2 separate regions of the Homo sapiens genome follow, and region 2 is reported to be linked to region 1. Evidence: microRNA targets listed by miRTarBase, many of them from high-throughput screens and not tested one by one. Region 1 holds a microRNA gene; the other region holds the end of a gene's coding sequence.
The links. Region 1 holds the annotated microRNA hsa-miR-4295 (CAGUGCAAUGUUUUCCUU, at 1,127-1,144, opposite strand). A microRNA usually pairs through its seed, bases 2 to 8, with sites in the 3' UTR of a target mRNA and lowers its output. Matches are read on the target gene's strand: a 7mer-m8 pairs with bases 2 to 8, a 7mer-A1 pairs with bases 2 to 7 and ends in A, and an 8mer does both.

Region 1 (3,197 bases):
CTAAAACACTACATCTGCCATGAATTCTGCATCTGCCTTTACCAAAGGGATCTTTCTCCTTAAATTCCTCAGCACGCTGTCTCATCTCCACAAGATTTACATGCCTGCATTATCCTCTTTACCAGAGTAAAAGCTGCTTGAAGGCAGGAAATGTGTTATCTTTTATTCCCCCCAAATAATGAGCACAGTGCCTGGCTCATATTATGAATAAAGGCACCTCCAGCCCCAGCTTTCTGAACTTTGCAGTTACAGGCAACAACAAGGCAGTGAAAACTCCGGCAAATGTCCGTAGGAGACTCCTAGAATTAGCTCCTCTAATGCTCCTCTGTCTGCCTATTTTAACAGTTAAGGAAGACACAGAAAAAATGTTGGCCACTCAGTCCAGGATTCAACCCCAGAGTTTATTTATTATGCATGTTTATGTATTCAGATTGTGAAGGAGGCAATGGGCATGGATTGTAAATTGATGGCAAACTTAATGAAAAGCAGACAAAACAGTGTAAGAAGGCTTAAATGCCTTTTAGAACATGGCAGATATATAAAAAAGTCATAAGAAAGTTTACAATAAAGAAAAGAATGTGGAAGAGTGAGAGTCAAAAAAGATAATTACGTAGAAGATTTTTAAACAGCTTGTCTAATGGAGATGCTGAGTGATTAAGACAAACAGCTTGCCAAACCACCTTGTCACAGGGACATAAATCTGAAAAAGCAGCAGACTCCTCAGAAAGGTCAGACAGATCACATTTAGTTTCAAAAGGAAGAAAACATGAAATTCGTGTGTGTGTGTGTGTGTGTGTGTGTGTGTGTGTATGTGTGTGTGTGTCTGTGTGTGTGTGTATAACCACCGAGAGGCAATGGTATGATATTGATAATCTTTGGAGAAAGAAACCTTCTGTATTGTCAAGTGACTTAAAACTCGAGGCACAATCCAAAACAAGAATTAAATAGCACAGCATAGTGTAGTCAACACCATATGAGAGGGTGCCTTCAGGGCAACACACACTGCTGCCAGAACACCAACCAAAAAATGGACAATCAGGATCTCAAAAGAGATGAGTCACCCAGAGGGTCTCTGTAGGAACAGTCTAGTTTCTTAGCCTTGAACCGAAGTGGTCTTGCCACAGGCAAGGAAAACATTGCACTGTTCCACAAAGTCAATTCTAAATGCATAAGCCATTGAAGCATATTTCTTATGGAATAAAGACTGAGGAGAAATAAAGGTTGAGTAATGAAAGTAAAGATGCAACAAAACTTTTAAAGTGGCCAATCTTGCTCATATAATGCTTGCAACCAAAAGGGAAGAAAGCTCTATTACTCTGGGAAAAAGGTGTTTGGATACACCACTAAAATAGGAAGCCTAAAAGAACCATTGTTTTATAATTCTGAGTTAACTGTGATCCTTTTTCCTTTTTTCCGTTTGTTAACTGATGGTATTTTCTGGAGTGAGTCATGACTTTTTTTTTTTTTTAGTCTAGAGCCAACTTGATAATGCTATTTAAATAAATTAACTAACTAAACTGCAAAGTATAAGCTCTTATGCCCATAAAATAAGAGAAGAACTGGGAAGTTCACCAACAAGGATGAAATAGGAGAGGCATTTAATAAAATTTGGTGACAGAGTCAGGGTAAGGTAACTCTCTCAGTGACACATTTATGTAATGCTAGTCTTCTCTGCATGGGAGACATTACTTTTTGGGGGCAATGCCCTTTTCCTCACCACTGCTTTTCTCCAATCTCTTCTTTGACTTCCTTTTGGGATCCCTGGGTATCCTGCTGTGTTGTTCCAGCCCCGGTGTTTTGCCTGCTATCTCTTTTCAATGTCTGAAGATCAATTATCCCTTCGTGCTAGCATAGGGAGGACAGAAATTCTGGGGACCACAACTTTTCCATTATACTTGAAGGAAAAAAGCAGCTCTCTCCTGTAAGATGGAGAATTCGGAGGTTTCCTCACAGGCTTCTGGTGATGCTTAAAGCAGAGAATCAACCTACAGGGTTTTAGCACAGTGCCTGGCACATGCGGAGTACTCAAAGGATGTGAGCTAATCTTCTTCTTACTATTATTATGTAAGTCCCGTAATTCTCTATGACCCACTATGTGTTCCAGATGATGCCGAAGACCTAGAAAAGTGGCTTTCATCACCATCAGACCTCTCCTCTCCTTCAGACCTCTCCTCTCAGGACTCACCATGTTGGTCAGGCTGCTCTCAAACTCCTGACCTCGTGATCTGCCCGCCTCAGCCTCCCAAAGTGCTGGGATTACTGGCATGAGCCACCACGCCCAGCCCAGACCACCTTTTTGTAACAAATATTTCACACAGGATTTTTAAAAAAGAAATCAATATAATGCCCTAGCTGTAATATAAATACAGGAAAATAACTTACAACAAAATAAGAAGTATTTCTATTTGTAAATACCCAGGCATTACTATACTAATAGATACAACTAAGTAAGTACATGCTTGTGCCTATACAACTGTCACATGCATGTACAATCAACATGCATGTGACACTACATATGCAAACCAATCCACAAGCACTGTAATGACAGCTCAAATACTACAAGTCGCATTACCATGAACACTGTACTCACCCAACTTTCCACCTGTTCCTCTTCCCTAACCCCCTTATGGTTAGGTAGGACTATATGACTATTTCTGGCCGGTACACTATAGTCAGAAGTGATGTACCTCAACTTTGGGTCAAAATATTGATGAGCTGGTATGTGAATCCCGTCTATCCCTGCCCGCAGTGGCTGGCAACGATCCCCATGGTGGAGTCTGGATGCTTGAGTAAGTGGGGCAGAGCCCTCTGTCAATGCTTGATCAACTTTTAGCATAAATAAAAAAGAAACCTTTGTTGTGTTAAACCACCAGAATTTCTAGGTTAATTTGTTACTGTAGCATAATCCTGTCTATCCTTCAATGGTAAAGAACTCTTTTAAAATAAACCCTGATTTTACACAATTATTGTATACTTGGAAAACTCCACATACGTTCAAGCCACACAAAAATACTTTGTGTTCATATGGAAAACTACGTTCAGATAATTATAAATAGGGTGTGCACCTTCACAAATGACCAGCAGGACATTTGAGAGTTTGTGCAGGATCAGGGAGTGTTGTAAAAGACTACGCAATACATTCCAGGATGTTTATTACCCTTGAGTTATCACTGAGATAACCAAAATGCCCCAACAAA
Region 2 (3,000 bases), not on the chromosome of region 1:
ATCTCACTAATACTGCATCTGATTTCTCTAGCGATATCAGGTTGTCTTCTGAGCTCTCAGGCAGCATCAATGATTTGAACACTTTAGACCCAAATCTACTGTTTGATCCAGGTCGTCAGCAGGGACAAGATGATGAAGCTACACTGGAAGAATTAAAGAATGACCCATTATTTCAACAAATTTGCAGTGAATCCATGAATTCTATGACTTCATCAGGTTTTGAATGGATAGAAAGCAAGGACCATCCTACTGTTGAAATGTTGGGTTAAATTGTGTTTTATAACATGTAGCACACTGTATCTAAAGACATATGTATTGTATTTGTCTTAATGGAAGTGCCTCCCGCAGCAGAAATACTATTAATTGTGACATTTTAAAAGCGTTTGCTGCAGAAGTGGTTTCTTCAGTAGGAAATGGTTAGACTTGCCTCAGTTCTTAACAAGTGTCTAAAGACAGTAGGCTGTAGAAGAACAAGTATTAGGTTTTAAATTTTATAATGTGCCCCATTTATTCACATTGATTGACTATCCAGCTGTTACAAGAGCAGTCGATCTTTATTTTGTGTAAGTTAGTTTCATTTCATCAGATGATCTGCACAGAACTCAGAATAAACCATCAATTTTAGGTATAGGCTGTTTTGTTGTTGGCATTATCTTTTAGATATAAAATCATAGCTAGGGTGAACTGTAGACAAGAAAGTCTTCCTTGAAACAGGGATAATATTCAGGTTATTATAAATATTTAGGCTTGAAGCATAGAGCTACTGTAGGGTGAAAAATCTCTGTAGGACTTTCTGGGGCTTCAGTACCATTTACACCCACGATGAAGGGCTTAAATAGAAAATAATGGAAAATTAAATATTACTTTAAGGAAAGCAAAGCTGCACTAAAATTTTTAAGGGAAAAAAAACAAGTAGCCATTTATATTTGTGACCTTGCATTAATATTTAAATGTTGATTTTAATATGGAGCTAGCACACATAGATGCGCAGGCACGCACACACAAAACAAGCAAATGTAACTCCAGGCATTTGTAATTTAATATAATAAATACAAGCATGTTAGAAAAATGCTTTATGTCTTATTATTTGTTAAGTTAGGGGAATGAGAAGGAAAACAAAAGCATTCTCTTAGTTTCATCACAATGGCTGCATGTACATATTGAGATTCTAACTGAGATTTACTTTGAAATTTTTCATTAAAATATTCCACAATAATCAGTTTTTTTCCTCTTCAATTGAGTGACTGACTCCCTCACTCCTCCTGAATATAGTAATGTAGTTTGATCATAGGATCCCTTTGAAAAACAGGAAGGAGGATAACATAAAAAACAACAAAAAACATTTCACCACCTAAGGTCTGAAGCCACAAATCTTTATATCTCTGATGAAACAAAGGGGATATCAATAGTACTTGAAGAAGAAGAGCATTTTATTACTTGCTTAATTTATTTATTGTGATAACCACAATTGCAAAAGAAGAACTCAGGATTTGTTTTAAAATGTTTCTCTCTATGGCTCCCATTTTGTTTTGTGAATAATTATTTATGAGTTGCATGTTGACACAAACCTACTCACTGGTTGAAAGCTCCATTTAAGTGAGTTTCAAGATCACTTTCAAAGAGATTTTTAAATTGCCATTGTTTTTAAAGCTAACATAAAACCATTTGCTATGCTACCTTGAACCTAGCTAAGCTTTCCTTTACCTTAGTAAGCCAATCAGAAGACTACAATCAATGAATATTTAGCAAATGTGCTGAAGGGTTTAATAAGGTTTTGTTGTTCAATAAATTTGCAAGGTAGGGTATTAACATATTTTGATAAATAAATGGTGCTAGAGTTGGCGCAGAGGTTTATATATTGATATGTCTTAGTTATTGGCATTTGTGTGTGTTTGCTGTTATCTTGATTTCATGATTTGTTAGGTATTTTTTTCTTGATGCTAGTTATTTCTTCACTGTACATTGAGACACAGCACTACTGCACACCAAAGTATGCAATACCCAAAGGAAACTGTGTGATTTCTCCTGACAAATGATGGGAGCCTTTCTTTATGAGATACTCTGAAAAGGAGATTTTGAGGCCATTCTAATCCCTTGTTTACATTATTAGCTTCCTACTAATATAAAAATAATGGAAATCTTTTTTGATAAAAATATTAAGACTGGAGGATTTTTAACCCCTTGTACAGTATTGCAGCAAACTCTTTAAATTTGGTTGAATTCGTCCAGCAAACTTTCTGGGGTTCATATATTGCACTAAATTTGTTGAACCTGTGGTAGGCACATCTCTTAGGATAAATGCAACCAATACAGTCCACAGATTAAACTTTTTAAATGTGTTTCATTATGAAAAGACAAAATGTCATCAAAGTGACAGATAAAATTGTCTTATGTAGCAATGTGCATTGATCTCAATGAGATATTTCTATTATTCTCTTACATGAGAATATTACAGCAGGAAGAATTAAGTTTAGTTTGCTTCACCATGTTAATACATGATCACAAAATGTGCATGAGTGTTATTGACTTATCTTGTACAGTACTAGGATTCCTGTAACCACTCTTTTTTTTCTTCGCTGTATTGAAACTGGTTCAGTGTTAACCAGGCAAGCATAGTTATTCACAGGTTATTTACTTTATGTTTACTAATTCTGCTTAGTTATTGTTGAATATGTTCTGTTCCAGATTATTTTTATTGTTTTGATGTTTAAAACATTTTGCATACTGTTTATCATAAAACTTCATGAAGTAAATAATTTTGCATATAATTGCAATAAGCACTGACTTTTGAACTGAAAAGAAGGAAAGTGTTTTTTTGTGCAGTGCTTCTGAGGTTCATATAATAGTCTTGTACTATAATGTGCTTTACTACACGATAAATGACAAAAACAAGCCCTGTTTCATGTTTCATTTAGTGCAAAAAGTCAGATTTCCCCAGTGTTTTGTTGTCTGTTGTACCTGCTGAAACTACAGTAGTTGAATATTGCGGTAGCATTTCAG

Region 2: miRTarBase lists RFX7 as a target of hsa-miR-4295. Seed matches in the 3' UTR shown: 7mer-A1 at 882-888 and 8mer at 2,252-2,259.

What each region holds. Positions count from the first base shown.
Region 1 is chr10:112,632,127-112,635,323 of GRCh38, reverse strand. It overlaps MIR4295 (microRNA 4295), which reads right to left and starts at 1,154; the gene lies at 1,070-1,154. The region is part of intron 5 of VTI1A (vesicle transport through interaction with t-SNAREs 1A); the gene reads right to left. LOC124902503 (a long non-coding RNA gene) reads right to left here. Exons shown (of 2, transcript XR_007062292.1): 2 at 1-3,197.
Region 2 is chr15:56,090,614-56,093,613 of GRCh38, reverse strand. RFX7 (regulatory factor X7) reads left to right here. Exons shown (of 10, transcript NM_022841.7): 10 at 1-3,000. The coding sequence ends at 269. Among named protein-coding and RNA genes, the nearest start is that of NEDD4, 99 kb to the right of the region's middle.